3 separate regions of the Homo sapiens genome follow, and all the other regions are reported to be linked to region 1. Evidence: microRNA targets listed by miRTarBase, many of them from high-throughput screens and not tested one by one. Region 1 holds a microRNA gene; each other region holds the end of a gene's coding sequence. Distances are between the middles of the regions.
Evidence for each region. Region 1 holds the annotated microRNA hsa-let-7f-2-3p (CUAUACAGUCUACUGUCUUUCC, at 3,249-3,270, shown strand). A microRNA usually pairs through its seed, bases 2 to 8, with sites in the 3' UTR of a target mRNA and lowers its output. Matches are read on the target gene's strand: a 7mer-m8 pairs with bases 2 to 8, a 7mer-A1 pairs with bases 2 to 7 and ends in A, and an 8mer does both.

Region 2: miRTarBase lists CASD1 as a target of hsa-let-7f-2-3p. The part of its 3' UTR that is shown has no 7-base or 8-base seed match.
Region 3: the mRNA of RAB39B is a reported target of hsa-let-7f-2-3p. Seed matches in the 3' UTR shown: 7mer-m8 at 2,144-2,150.

The regions. Positions count from the first base shown.
Region 1 is chrX:53,555,466-53,560,465 of GRCh38, reverse strand. MIRLET7F2 (microRNA let-7f-2) reads left to right here and starts at 3,192; the gene lies at 3,192-3,274. It overlaps HUWE1 (HECT, UBA and WWE domain containing E3 ubiquitin protein ligase 1), which reads left to right. Exons shown (of 84, transcript NM_031407.7): 56 at 50-278; 57 at 934-1,112; 58 at 1,406-1,495; 59 at 1,657-1,811; 60 at 3,039-3,084. MIR98 (microRNA 98) reads left to right here and starts at 4,125; the gene lies at 4,125-4,243.
Region 2 is chr7:94,555,085-94,560,161 of GRCh38, reverse strand. It overlaps CASD1 (CAS1 domain sialic acid O acetyltransferase 1), which reads right to left. Exons shown (of 18, transcript NM_022900.5): 18 at 3,143-4,670. The coding sequence ends at 4,404. It overlaps LOC105375404 (a long non-coding RNA gene), which reads left to right and starts at 1,667. Exons shown (of 4, transcript XR_007060433.1): 1 at 1,667-1,740. RefSeq lists an enhancer at 4,003-4,052.
Region 3 is chrX:155,256,204-155,261,280 of GRCh38, forward strand. It overlaps RAB39B (RAB39B, member RAS oncogene family), which reads right to left. Exons shown (of 2, transcript NM_171998.4): 2 at 2,032-5,026. The coding sequence ends at 4,600. Among named protein-coding and RNA genes, the nearest start is that of RAB39B, 5.7 kb to the right of the region's middle.

The sequences.
Region 1 (5,000 bases):
GGAAGAAATTTCTTTTTGACACTGACCCTTTTACATATTGTCCTTGCAGCAGACATCCCCCCATCCCCAGGAAATATCCCTACCACCCATCCACTGATGGTGCGCCATGCAGACCACAGTTCTCTGACACTGGGCAGTGGCTCTTCAACAACTCGTCTCACCCAGGGCATCGGGCGCAGTCAGAGGACCCTAAGGCAGCTGACGGCCAATACTGGCCACACCATTCATGTTCACTACCCTGGGAATCGCCAGCCCAACCCTCCTCTTATACTGCAGAGGTGAGTTACAGAGATCTGTTGGATTCATCGGAGCTCTTGTAAGAATTTTCACTGTGCTTTAGCATTGTCTTAACCTTGGGGGAAATAGTCCATCACTTAATGTTCTTGTCATACACACAAATAAGGTATTTGTTCCATTTCTTTGTGGATTACATGTGTAGCCTTTTGGGGAGTGCAGCCTTTTGGGGAATACCAAATTATGTCAATAGTTCTGCGCATGTATTTAGCAATTATTAAGTGTCTCATGCCAAGCACTTAACACTTTAGATATAGACGGGACAAGATCCCTGCCCTCAGGCTTAGAGTTTAGTGAGACAAACAATCTTAAGAAGTAAAAGAAAGGCATATAAGTGTTGTAATGGTTGGTGTACAGACGACAGAGAGGGTGTAGTGGAGGCAATGTGACCTGACGCAGTGCCTGGCACGTGGGAGCTTATTGACACCCACTTGGTGCCAGGAACTATGGAATAATATACAACTTAAGTACAAAACCAGGGTGGTATTCAGAAAAATAACTTAGACTTGTGTGCACATCATCAGGTTTATAATCATGTTCTGCATTTAATAGAGGATGCATGAAGAGGATCTCATGGTAACAGGTTGCAGGGCACCTCTGGACTTAACAGTGATCATGGTACCCACCATTACCCTACAGGTTGCTTGGTCCCTCAGCTGCTGCTGACATCCTTCAGCTGAGCAGCAGCCTTCCCCTACAAAGCCGGGGTCGGGCCCGCCTCCTGGTAGGCAACGATGACGTCCACATCATCGCCCGTTCTGATGATGAGCTGCTGGATGACTTTTTCCATGATCAGAGCACAGCTACCAGCCAAGCAGGCAAGTTTGTGTGGTGAAAGGGAGGGTAGAATTTGTCAGATTCTACTTTTTCCCTGCTGAGGAAAAGCAAGACAGTGTCTGCCCTATAGAAAACCCCCATTTTATAGGAGCCAGAACCACTCAGTGACTTAGCCATGGGCAACAAAAACTTTATTGTCTCTAGGTACTTGTTATGTTCTAAACATTGTGATAGACCTTGGGTCCTTTTAGGGAAATACTGCAATTTTTGGATCGGTGGATCAGTTAATGCTTGACAAGGCCAAGAATCTCATTCCCCTTTGCTGTCCCTACAGGAACCCTGTCCAGCATCCCCACAGCCCTGACCCGCTGGACAGAAGAATGCAAAGTTCTCGATGCTGAGAGCATGCATGACTGTGTTTCAGGTGCGTGGCAGCTTGGTTATCAGGGCAATAGTGAGCCTTCCAGAGCTAGGGCAAACGTGTGGAGAGTTGTTTCCCTGGTTCTCTGTGGCTACAAGCTCTGCCTCTTGGCTTCCTCCCTGACCCCACCAGAGCAGCCTTTGATTTTTGCCTCTTTGAAACAGTGGTTAAAGTGTCCATTGTCAATCACCTGGAATTCCTGAGGGATGAGGAGCTGGAAGAAAGGCGAGAGAAGCGCAGGAAACAACTGGCTGAGGAAGAAACAAAGATAACTGATAAAGGCAAAGAAGATAAGGAGAACAGGGATCAGAGTGCACAGGTGATTCCCAAGGGCTGGGAGGATTCATCTTTGACTGTGTCTGCCGTAATGTGGTTTTGGCATACACATGGCACCAGGAATCACTGAAGAATCCTAGAACGTTCACGTTGAACCTGGGAAATTTTTTATTTCAAATTCACCATACATTGACCTGGTTTTTAGGGGAAAGAATTCAAACCTAGAGGGGAGATTTCTCAAGTGTCAAGGGAAAAACTGGAGCCAGAAGCAGAATGGCTTCTCACTCAACAGTCACACTGCATAGTCTCTACCGCCAAGGACAGCATCAAGACAAGGAGAAAAACCTTATCTAAGTCCATGCTCTTAGTCGCCCACTTCCATTTCTGTCGGTGAACTGCCAGTGTGGGGAATCTTACCGAGATGACCCCATTCCGTCATTTGAGTAAGATCAGCCTAGGTGTCAGATCAGAGAAAATGTTTGTACTCTGAACCCCATCACCACATGTCATTTTTTCTAGGGCTCACATGTATAAAATCACTAATACAATTTTGGTTTAGAAGGAAGTTACCTACTTTTTTCTGAAACTTCTGGGACCTCAGACAGAGATCTTTTAAATGTCTGAGTAAATGTTGATAGAATTATACATTACAGTGTATCACTTGATATAAAAGGGGGAAAAACTGATAGAAATACAAAGAAATAAGACTTGAGAGTGAAAGACTTTAGTATACCCTACTCAGCAGTTAAGGAATCAGGTAGATTAAAAATAAGGGTAGTGAAGTGTTCAGTTAAAATAACAAGGTTGATCTAACAAATATCTTTATATAGAACTTTTTACCTAATACACACATTGTTTCAAACTTGATATAGGATGAAAAATAAGTGAACCTAGCCTGTGACTGAAAAGACTAGAGTGGACAAAATAAAAAATAAGCCCCATGAAGGGAAAAAATACATAGATGAAACCAAGAAATTCTTGCTAGAATGATCATGATCGTGCCCATCCCTAAGGGGTTTTTATTATCCTTTCCTTCCATATTTATTTCCCCCTCAGCCCCAAACAATTCTTGAACCTGAGTATGTATAGAGAAATTGGTCATATATTTGCACAGTGAAATGATCACCTTCCTTTGGTCACATGGCCAAAGCATTCTCCATTAGATCACTGAACTCCTAGATGGTCTGGGTGGAGGATGGTGACTATTACAGTTGACCTCTATCTTAGGTGCTTGCAAAGTCCCACATTGGTCTATCCCTTCTTTTTGCAGTGTACTGCATCTAAGTCAAATGACTCCACTGAACAGAATCTCTCAGGTAACTCTCCTTCCCTTTCTCCCTTCTTACTAATCAATTGGTTGCTTCTTTATCCTGATAGTTCCGAGTAGCTGGCCCACATAGGCTGAAGATGGACACTGGTGCTCTGTGGGATGAGGTAGTAGATTGTATAGTTTTAGGGTCATACCCCATCTTGGAGATAACTATACAGTCTACTGTCTTTCCCACGGTGGTACACTTCTTCTCCGACTGGCTCTGTTCAGGTTCTTGTTCTGGTTATTATCTACTTTGTTCTGGCATGGGTAATGAGGTCATGTGTCTTGTTCATTTCCTGACTGCAACTCTGTCCTCTGAAACAGCATGTTCATGTACATCTTTGAAGTGGCTGGTCCTTTGATGACCACCATGGTGTGGCACTTCATGAGAATAACTGATGACAGTGGTTCTCAAATGCCAGTCCTCTGTGGAAACGAACAAAATCAAGGAGCTTTAATGCCTTTTTCATAAAGCTGAATTTATTCCATTTAAAAGGCTGTTTTTGTATTTAGAGATCATATTCCTAATTCTGTGGTACCAAAATATTTTTATTAAATGATGTTGATTGGATGTTTTTTCTTACATGGCTAAACTAAAAGTTGGCAACCCCTACATTAGTCTCTACTTTTTGTTCTTTTTTTAATTAAATTTTATTGGTCCATGGAATCTAAAAGTCTAGGAACATTGTCTTGGATAGTGTGCTGTTCATGAAGGTAGCTCTCTGGGCTTAGTGGTATGACTGCCGTATGTTTCCTATTCCCTCTGATCTTCTTAACAATGGTCAGTAGCCATTTTGTGATTCTATCAGTTGGTTCATGTGATATCATATGTCTCCCCCACCCATATTTCCTCAGAACATTCTTCTGCCTCCCTACACCTGTCTCCTTTCGCACTTGAGTTGGAAAATGATTGTACCAAAGCCTGCACAATATTTTTTAAAGCAGTGAAGTAGGGTAGATGCCTTGGTACCCTTAATCTAGCAAAAGATCTTTAAAAGAGTCTGTCACCATGTAAAATGGCCTTTTGCCTGCTGCCCTTATTAGAGGATTCTGCTCATGCCAGGGTGAGGTAGTAAGTTGTATTGTTGTGGGGTAGGGATATTAGGCCCCAATTAGAAGATAACTATACAACTTACTACTTTCCCTGGTGTGTGGCATATTCACACTTAGTCTTAGCAGTGTTGCCTCCATCAGACAAAGTTGTAGATGTTCCTTGGATAATTTGGACTGGAAGAAAAGAGACATGGAAGGGGACAGATGGTGTTTAGGGTGAGGCAGATGTCATTATAAAGTGACTTGTCTTTCATTAATTGGAGCATATAATTATTTTACCTTTGGGCATGAACTCATTTTGCTATTCTTCAACTGTGTAATGATTGCATTTTATTAGTAATAGAACAGGAATGTGTGCAAGGGAATGGAAAGCATACTTTAAGAATTTTGGGCCAGGCGCAGTGGTTCATGCCTGTAATCCCAGCATTTTTGGGAGGCCGAGGCGGGTGGATCACCTGAGGTCAGGAGTTCGAGACCAACCTGGCCAACACGGCGAAACCCCGCCTCTACTCAAAATACAAAAATTAGCCAGGCTTGGTGACACTCGCCTGTGGTCCCAGCTACTCAGGAGGCTGAGGCAGGAGAATTGCTTGAACCCAGGAAGTGGAGGCTTCAGTGAGCTGAGAACACGCCACTGCACTCCAGCCTGGGCAACAGAGCAAGACTCTGTCTCAGGAAAAAAAAAAAAAAAAAAAAGATTTTGAAGGGCTGGACGCAGTGGCTCACGCCTGTAATCCCAGCACTTTGGGAGGCCGAGGTGGGTGGATTGCTAGAGCTTAGGAGTTTGAGACCAGCCTGGGCAACATGGCAAGACCCTGTCTCTACTAAATATACAAAAAATTAGTCAGGTATGGTGGCACATGCCTA
Region 2 (5,077 bases), not on the chromosome of region 1:
TCCGTCTATCAGCAGGACTTTGACCCTGTGACTTGTTAAAAACAAAACAAATACTAACCTACTTATGAAAGAGCTACAGTCAAAAATCAAGTACTAAGGATGGATAGAAAAGAGAAAGACAAAGCCTAAGAATTAAAACAACAAAACAAACCAACAAAACTGCCAGATATAGAATCAAGCTTTATTTTTACTGAATGATAGTATAAGCTTTTAATATAACATAGGCATGTATAATATTGAAGATATTTTAATTTGAAAATAAAGGGAAAATACATTTAATTATTCCATTTTTCTTAGTTTTACTTTGAATTCCAAATAAGAATTTTAATACATTTTTGGCTGGGCACGGTGGCTCACGCCTATATCCTAGCACTTTGGGAGACCGAGGAAGGTGGATCACCTGAGGTCAGGAATTCGACAACAGCCTGGCCAACACGGTGAAACCCCGTCTCTACTAAAAATATAAAAATTAGCCAGGCATGGTGGTGCACACCTGTAATCCCAGCTACCTGGGAAGCTGAGGCAGGAGAATTGCTTGAACCTGGGAGGCAGAGGATGCAGTGAGCCGAGATTGCGCCATTGCACTCCAGCCTGGGCAAGAGAGCGAGACTGCCTCTCAAAACAAAACAAAACAAAAGCAAAACAATTTTAGTATCTTTTTTACTAAGATGTAAAATGTCAGGTGCTCAGGACAATTTTACTGCTGAATCCCTGAAAGACAAAGGGTATTTTATTCCATTTCATATTTCCCCCAAATTGTTCATAATGGTTACTTTTGAACATAAATGTCTGCGTAATTGTAAAAGAAATTATTCCATATATATACATATATATATACACACACACACACACACATACACACACACACACACACACACACACACAGACATATATACAGAATTTGGGTATTCCAATATTGTTATATTTAGGTTCTGGTACCACATTGAATGCCAGTTAAATAGCTTCCATTTGTGTCTCCTTGTTTCTACTATGACTATTAATATGGAAAGGCAGAACAAATAGTGCCATTAAATTTTTGTAAGATTTAAAATCAGAAAATCAGGCCAGGCACAGTGGCTCACGCCTGTAATCCCAGCACTTTGGGAGGCTGAGGCAGGTGGATCGCTTGAGGCCAGGAATTGGAGACCAGCTTGGCCAACAGGGTGAAACCCCAACTCTACTAAAAATACAAAAATTAGCCAGGTATGGTGGCAGGCACCTGTAATTCCAGCTACTCAGGAGGCTGAGGCAGGAGAATTGCTTGAACCCAGGAGGCGGAGGTTGCAGTAAGCCAAGATCACGCCACTGCACTCCAGCCTAGGTGACAGAGTAAGACCCTGCCTCAAAAAATTAATTAATTAATTAAATAAAATAAGAAATCTATTCTGGAAATCAGTCATCAAACACCACAATTTTGGGAATATAGTTTGGACGACCACTTCCTTTTCTGGAAACCATTTTTAGAATAAGAAAATGAGCCAGAATACACCTTGCCAAATAAGTTTCCCCAAATCACAATTATGATTTGGGGAATGAACACAAGAATGAACAAATTAAGTCATAAATGTATGCAATCATTTTTGAATGTCTTTGCAGAGAAATATTCAAAGTGGTAAGATGGATTGAACTGCCAACCAAAATTGTCAATCTTTATTTCAGTCTTCACTATTAAGCTAAAAAGGTAATTTTTCTCTTGAATGATGTGAAGAATTGAATTTCTTTCAACTGTTCCAAAAATCTGTAAGTACAATACTACCTAATCTCCTGTTATGCAACAGACTCCCATGTGGTACATCCAATTCATTACACAAAACACTGAATTGTCTGCAATGCAAGCCATGGAACACATCCAGTTTATGATATCAATGACTATATCCAGGATGCATTCCCGTTTTAAGGTTTTAGTATAAAGTCATTCGAGAATAGAATAATAAATGAACTTGGGTCCCACATCCTTGTAAAACATTATTAATTTAGATGGGCTGAATTTTTAATGCTTCTATTGGCTACCCACAAAAATGGGAAGTTTTGGCAAAGGAAAGGAGGAACGATTGAGGTAGAATTCAGTCAAGCAAGTACCTTTTAAAGCCAGATGGTAGATTTCTGACTGTGATTTCTATTACAGAAAAATCTGAATTTAGAGAACCTCTGTGGTTTTATCTCAACTTTAGCATATCTAAACATCCTGTTAAAAATCTTATTCTAAAGAATGGTATGATTGAGTAATGCAAATGGTCAGTATCTGAGTCGATGCAGAAAATAAAATATTAAGACATTTACCGTATATATAGGTGCTATCATTGTGGCAACTTCCACAATAACCTTTTAAGACTAATTAAGAAAATCAAATATAAAAAATATTTTTAACTACAAATAAATTATTTTTAAATTATACAGATTATTATATAATTATATGTAAAAAATAGTGCTTTATATTAAATAAGAACAAGTGATGAAGAAACAGGGCTCACCAGGTAAGTTTTAGGCTTCAGTTCAAATAGGAGAGAAAAGCATATATTCACTGCGGCATCCCTACTGAAGACATAAGTGCTTCCAAAATACACAGGGAGACTGGTCATCTTTCTTTTTCAATTGTTTCATCAAGAAGAATCTTTTTCAGGTGATAAAACTTACAAGCTAAATTAAAATGCACTCTACTCATTGGCAAGCTACATGAACAAGAATAATGTGATCACAGTACTTGGAAGTTTTTGATTTATAACTATACTATTCTCTACTTATAAGGCTGCAGTCTAGGAGGCAGAGCAATGAATCATTACAATTGTCTATCTGGGAAATGTCAAAAGATTAAGTAAGGGCAAAAGAAGAGAGAAAAGGAAAGAACACACATCTCTGTCCAAGAAATATTCCTCTATTAATGGAGGTATATCAGTAGCACATAAATCCAGTGCTAAATAAATAATAAGTACATTTTTAAAATCTTCAAGCAAAATCACTAATGAACCATAATGCTTAAACTTCCTTGGTGGAAAGCAGATGACCCTCTGAAGCTCTGATAACTAAATGATTCCTTATCCAACTATCATTTGGTAACCTACCCCTACATATTAAGCAATTTAAAAAGCAAATTTAAGTTGAGGAAATAATTAGATATTTGAACCAATCATGAATGGATCCAGCATTTTTGAAAAAGAACACATATAGTTTAATTGATACTTTGCCAATACAAAAATAAGCATCCACAGAATGTTTATTTACTGTTTAAATTACTCCATATTTTCATATACTGTGAACAGAAAATATATTTTACCCCACATATAGTAAAAGCAAACAAGTGCAATCTTTCAAACATTAAAATCATAATCAAATCTGTACAACAGATAAATAAATGTATACCTCTAACAGTTAGCTTGTAAAAAAAAATCAAACAAAAAGCAAAAACATTTATTGCCCAAATTCACCAGTTTACTTAAAATTCTACTTATGGTAATACAGCTCAATCGTAACAACTTGCATGTTTACTACACTGCACAAGTTTAGACTGATAAATATTTAAAATAGGAGGTGGGTAATAGGAAATACCAAATGGCTATAAAGAGCTTTCCAAATATTGGAAATAATATACGAAAATTAATTAGTGGGGATAACATATTAAATGGATCCACAGGGTAACTGGTATTACACTGGTATAGCTTGAGGAAAGGAAACAGGTGAACGTTTGGATTGGAAAAAAAATTTTGGCTTTTTTATAAAACGAAGCAACAATAACATCAACAATGACAAAACCCTGTCATGGAGCCTCAGAACTATTCTGTGAGACAAAGTGTACAAAGATTTAGGCTTGCATACCCGAAAACCACAGTTAGGAAGAAAAATCATTTCAGGAAACAACATCAGAACAAGAACACATATAAATTAAAGGCATACTGTTTATCATTCCACTTCATTGCACATATAAGAAAACAATACTGCCGTCATTCTTGAGTAAGAAAGTTTCCAATGAAAGAGGAAGTTCCACAATGAATACAGGTGCAGACAGTCTTATTACCACAAATTTAGTTATATCAAAACACTTGGTGGTGTCACTAAGTTAATTAAATTATCTATACTTTTTACTGGAAAGGTAATCATTTCCCTGCCTTCATATGTTAACTTAAAATCACTTACAAATGGAAATATAGATTCAGTAGAAAAGACTTCACATGCAATCCTATACAATGCATTCTGGTTTTTTGTTTGTTTGTTTGTTTTAGTATTTCATATTGGATATGTACATTTCCAATATATACAACCACATATGTTCAACAGATGTCACAGAACTGTCCTCTTGCCACAAACGTTTATATTTACATACACATTTATATCTCCAGATAGATGCTTTTCTCTTCTAGAGACACACAAAGGTAGCCTGAAGAGTTTAGGTTTTTTAGAATTTTTGGAACCTAATGTTTTGATTTATCTTGAATGGATGATAAGATGAGGAGTCCACAAAAAAATGCAGCTATACATGCCAACCTTTTCAAGAGAGATGAGTTATCTTTAGGAATAATAATCTGTGCAAGATCATTAGTGATCTGAGAAATTTCATGTGCCACACAAACAAATATGAAAGTGCTGACAATGATGTTGAGCATAGGGTTTCCAGGTATCAGTACCAAGATACCCCTTGTGTCCGCTGCCAGCCATATGTGATACTGGCAAATAAATAGCTAGGAGAAAAAATATTTAAGTCAGATATTTATAGAGGGTCCATGAATAAATTACAGTTTTCCCTAATTTAAACAATTTGGTTGCATAATAACATTAGAAGGCTTTCCTAAAACCATTTTATTCTGTCTCACTACTGGCCCTGAAAAGTCCACTGCAGTCTACTCCTTAGAACTCCAACTGCTAATACAATCTCTCTTATAAATGAGACCAAAGAAAATAATAGAACAATTATTCAAGAACTCAAAGAGGAATTTATTTTCCCTATTTTAAGAGACAATTTAATAAATCCTATACTCTAAAAACTCTAAAATATATGTTGTTATTACAATATAAATTGTTTTAAAACATTCTATTTCAAATAATAAAGCTTAGACTACTCAGAATACATTTTAAAACCTACTGTTCA
Region 3 (5,077 bases), 100 Mb from region 1:
GGTCTCATAGGAGAGAGTGAGCAACCAGAACTTATAATCAGAACTCTAGAGGCTGTATAAAATTTGGTAATGCTTCAAGATAGGGACATGTGTGTATTTTACTGATGTGAAGTAAGAATCAAGGTCATTGGATTAAAGTAGAGCAAGAAAACAATCATTCATTCAAGTATGTATAGATGATTCAAGCACCTAACTTGCTACAAGTTAGAGAAATACTGGTGAACAAGATGAGTAAGATTTGTAGCCATGTTAAGAAATGTAGGGTTTATTTGGATTTTGTTCTAAATGTGACAATAAACCATCAGTGGGTTTTAATCAGAGGAATTACTTGATCTGACTTACGTTGTGAAAAGATCACTCTGGCTGTTAGGTTGAGAATGTATCATGGGAGTGGGAACAAGGACTAGGGAGGCTAGTTAGGAAGATAGCGAAGTAAGAGTTCATAGTGGCCTGGACAAACGTGGTATCAATGGAGATGGAGAAAAGTGGCAGACACACACACACACACACTCACACACACGTACATATATTTATTTATATATTTGTTTATTTATTTGAGACAGGGTCTTGCTCTGTCACCCAGGCTGGAGTGCAGCGGTGTGATTACAGCTCACTGAAGTGATCCTCCCACCTCACCCTCCCTTGTAGCTGGGACTACAGGCATGTGCTACCATGCTGGGCTATTTTTTTTTTAGGAGAGATGGGGTCTCATTGTGTTGCCCAGGGTCAGACACATATTTTGAAGTTAGAGTTGACAGTGCTAGATGATGGATTTGATATGAGAAATGAGGGGGAGTGAGGAATTAAGAATAACTCCCAATTTCTGTGAATGGTGGTGTCATTTATAGAGCTGAGGAAGACCGGGGTTGTTGGAGCACATTTTGATAGACGTTGAAGACATTGATTTTAGTATTGGATATGTTGAGTCTGAGAAATCTGTGGCTTTGTTTAGTAGGCAAGTTGGCTGTATTGATATAACGTTCAGAAAAGTGAGCTAGAGTTACTGATTTTGGAATCAGCAATGGAAAGATGGTAACTGAAGTCACGAGAGTGGGTAAGATTGTCTAGGGAGAGGAGAGGATAGAGAGAAGAAAGAGAGAAGAGAATTGGTCCTCTGACAGAACTGAGAACACCAAGTTCCTGAGAGGCTTAATATAGGCAGCAATCATTCCACCAACACTATGCCGGCAAAGGCCACTCATGACTTCCTGTTCTCTCAAATCTTGCGGATTCATTTTAGTTTTTATCTTTCTGAATCGACTGCTGCATTTTGATACTACTGTTCACACCATCCTATAAAACTGTACTCTCCAGGATTTCATTGTCTCCTTGTAAGTTTCCTTTCCCTTTTCTGTGTGCCCTACACTTTATTGTTACCCAGGGAAGACTAAAGAGTAAGACTCTAGGTTGAGCTGTCAGCAATGACTTTTGGAGCCACGTCTCTTAAATCTATAAGAGAATTAATATAAATGTGATAAAGCTGTACAGAACTTAGGCTACCTATCTACTTATGCCCAGACTCAGAATCCATTATCTTTCCTTTTTTTTTTAACCCTCCCCCCACCCTCATGTGTACTATCAATCCTGGGAAATGTGCTGAACTATTGTGTTCTTATGTTGGTGCCACACTGTAAGTGATCCTGGCATAAAAAGCATGCCGTAGTAGGATTTGAAAAAGCTGAGGCAACTTAGCCTGGAAAAAAGAAGACTTTCCAGGGAACATAATAGTTGTAATCAACTACTTGGCAACAGAATTAAGACTCTTGATTAAAAATCATCATGATGAAGATTTAGGCTTGACAGAACCAACTTTTCTCAAAGTGGCATATGCTCACCAGGAAGTATTGAGGTCCCAGGGACTTTTGATATGATGGTCAGATAACTTTCAAAAATTATATTCTCTTTCTGGCTTTAAGGTAATGGTGAATACGATTGTGTATGGTATATGTCACATCTTATTGATATCCTTGGTAGTAGTTGCTACGCTGTAGTAACAGATTCTGGAAATAGCTATAACACACACTTGGAATCTCACAGTCACATAATCAATCATTTTACTAAATACAAGCATATTTTCATTCACATACAGCTAAATAAAGCATTTTTCACATTTCATTACAGTGCACAACAAAGTGAGGAAAAGTATACAGTACATTTTATTCTGAAATATGAGACAATCTAATCCAACATGCAGTTGTGGTCTTTGTTACAAGTTAGTTTATCTTTTCTTTACCTATGTAGTAAAATAGCTTCTAAAGCTTTATCCTTAGTATTATATTAACACCTGATTCTTTTCACACTTATTTTCTAAAACCCACTTATTGCAGTGACAATGGTACTGAATTCTACTAAAATGATTTTTAAATTTTCTAGAACTTATTTAAGCAATTAAGCTCAGCCACCTCTGCTGGATTTATGCTGAATATTTTTAAACCTGCCAGAAAATGCCAGGAGTGGGAATACTGTACATATAATAAATTTTAGTGAAGAAAATTGTAGGGAAGTTTTGTTTCTTTCCTTTTTTGAACTGACAGAATCCAGTCGACTCTCATTTACCCACTGGATAATCTTGCTTTCAGAATCTTCTAAACATAATTCAGTATAGCAGTTGATGAAATTTTGTGTTAATGAAATTTGCCATGTTTTGTTTGTCTTTTACAACCACGAAGGTGGCAATTTAATTACCCCACCTAAGCCAGCTCTTGTGAAATGAATATAGAGAAGATGATCAGTTCACTTGTAGTTAATGCTGTGAACTGATCCAAAGTGGTTTGCTCATCCAACTTGGGGCACAGGTGGCAGAATAGTCTTCCATAATTTTCATGATTTGGTTTCTTTATTCTGGCTAAAGCAAATTCCCAAAGTTTCAGATTCGGTCACATTCATACTGAAGTTCAATATTATATCTCAAAGCGATTTGCCATTCTTAGGCCTTCCTATCACAATGGATATGAGAAACCTGACTCTAGTCAGAATAGTTTTTTTTTTTAATTGTGAAAAGTATGGCTTTTGCCTAGCTGAACTGGCTACAATCCAAAAAGTAATTTAAAGCATCACCTCTCTTCAAGAAAATAATGGAAACTTCAAGCCAGCCATTCCAATTTGCTGATGCAGTTAGCTGTTTGTTCACCTGAGAATTAAGGGCTGACTCTCTTGGGTAGACAGGAACTCAGTGTACGTATATGGCAGACAGGTGGCCAAGGTCATTTTGGGGTGGGTATTTTATCCCTATCCCACTCCGCATTGCTGTACGTGGTTCCTTTCAATAAAAATCCACTGTGTCTCAGTGATAAGAACACTTATAGCCCACACAGTTCTAATGTCTTTTTAGTTGTGCAATTATTCACTTGTTTAAAGCCCTCTTGTCAATAATGCCTGAATGGGCTTTACCTTTGATTCCTTCCCATGTTCCCTCAGGATTATAGCTGAGTTGTAATCAATAAGGAAAACATATCCTAACATGTAGAGAACATTTATTTATAGTCATATCTCTTCCCAAGTAAACAAATTCATAATCATTTATTCATCTGACAGCAGTATGATGCAGTGAAAAGAGCTAGGAGTCACGAGTCCTTGACCCTGGCCAAGTGATTTTCATGGCTCTTAGTTTACTATTCTGTAAAATGGGGCAAAAACCTCGTAGGCCTGTTATGATGATCAAATAAGTAGCCCAAGTAACTGTAAGCTGTTTGTAAGGGTTACAGTGCCTCCTGTTCAGCAGGAGAGAGTGTTTGCCTCAGGGCTCTTTTCAGAGGCAGTCACTGTGTTGTCACTGTCACGTGCCTGAAGAAGCAAGCAGACTGTTTACTTCCAGATTGCAGGTGCCAAGGCATTGAAACCCCAGGCATGGTCAAAGGAAAAAGGGGGTATGGCATTTGGGTTATAGTGTCTCTTTCCTAGTTATAGGGTAATTTGCATGGGACAATTTGTTTCATACAGCTGGTAATTCTATCACAAGGGTGTTCATTTTCTGAAATGTGCTAATAACTGTGTCGATTGCCTTCCTTTCCATAGTCACATCATTTTTACTTGAACACCAGACCTTTTGGTCTGTGTTCCTCATTTTACAGAAAGCTGTTAAAAGCTAATTGGTACCTTTTAACCAAACCCAGCAAACACCTTTGGTGCAGGGTATTCTCACGGAATAAGTAGAGCTCATAATCTTTGTTTAGTTATGCTAATTGTCCCCATTGTGAAACTTTTTTCCCCTTTATGTATTTCTTTATGTTCATGGCCTATAAGTGAGCTCAAATACCAAGGAACAGTTGTCCTGTCTGTAGGTATGTTTTCCTGGGACTTAGCTTCCTAAACCCCAGGCCTTTAACATGTGGTCCACAAAGGGCTCATGGAGCAGCCACTGCCTAGCATGGGCCACAAAACAGTGCCTGGCCTGGCCCATGTCAGCAATTCAGTCCCTTGGTCACAGCACTCAGGCACCCCCATCCACCCGCACACGAGTCTGTCAGAGTCCCCCTGAGAGGGAGGCTCACTTGGTATCCAAATGGAGGTTGAGTTCTCATCAGTTACACAAAGATTCTATTTATTTCTCTTACTTTTCAGTTCAAGTAGGAGAGCATGTTTTGGAAATAAAAGAACTGACTAGCACAAACATCTCCTCTCTGATTTGACAACCTCTTCTGAAGAGTGAACCACATTTGGTACAAATCCACTCTTCACCCCTTCCCAGCCCTCCTGGATTGTAATCTCCCCCCTTTTAACCAGCTCATATATGTCTCTTGTCAGGTCTGTGAAGGCTTTCTCCACATTAATGGCATCTCGGGCTGACGTTTCAATGTACTTCATGCCGTATGCAGCAGCCAGTTTCTCGGCCTCGTGGCGAGTCACTTGCCTCTGTGTATCCAGGTCACACTTGTGACCCACCAGAACAAATACAATTTGGTAGGGCTGAACGTGTACTTTGGTCTCTTCTAACCACTCATGGACATTCTGGAAGGACCTGCGGTTGGTAATGTCAAATAAGAGAAGACCACCTACTGAGTTCCTGTAGTAGGCGCGAGTGATGGATCTAAAACACAAGAAAGAAGTAAAGAGTAAAGGCTGTGCCCAAACTTCTGCA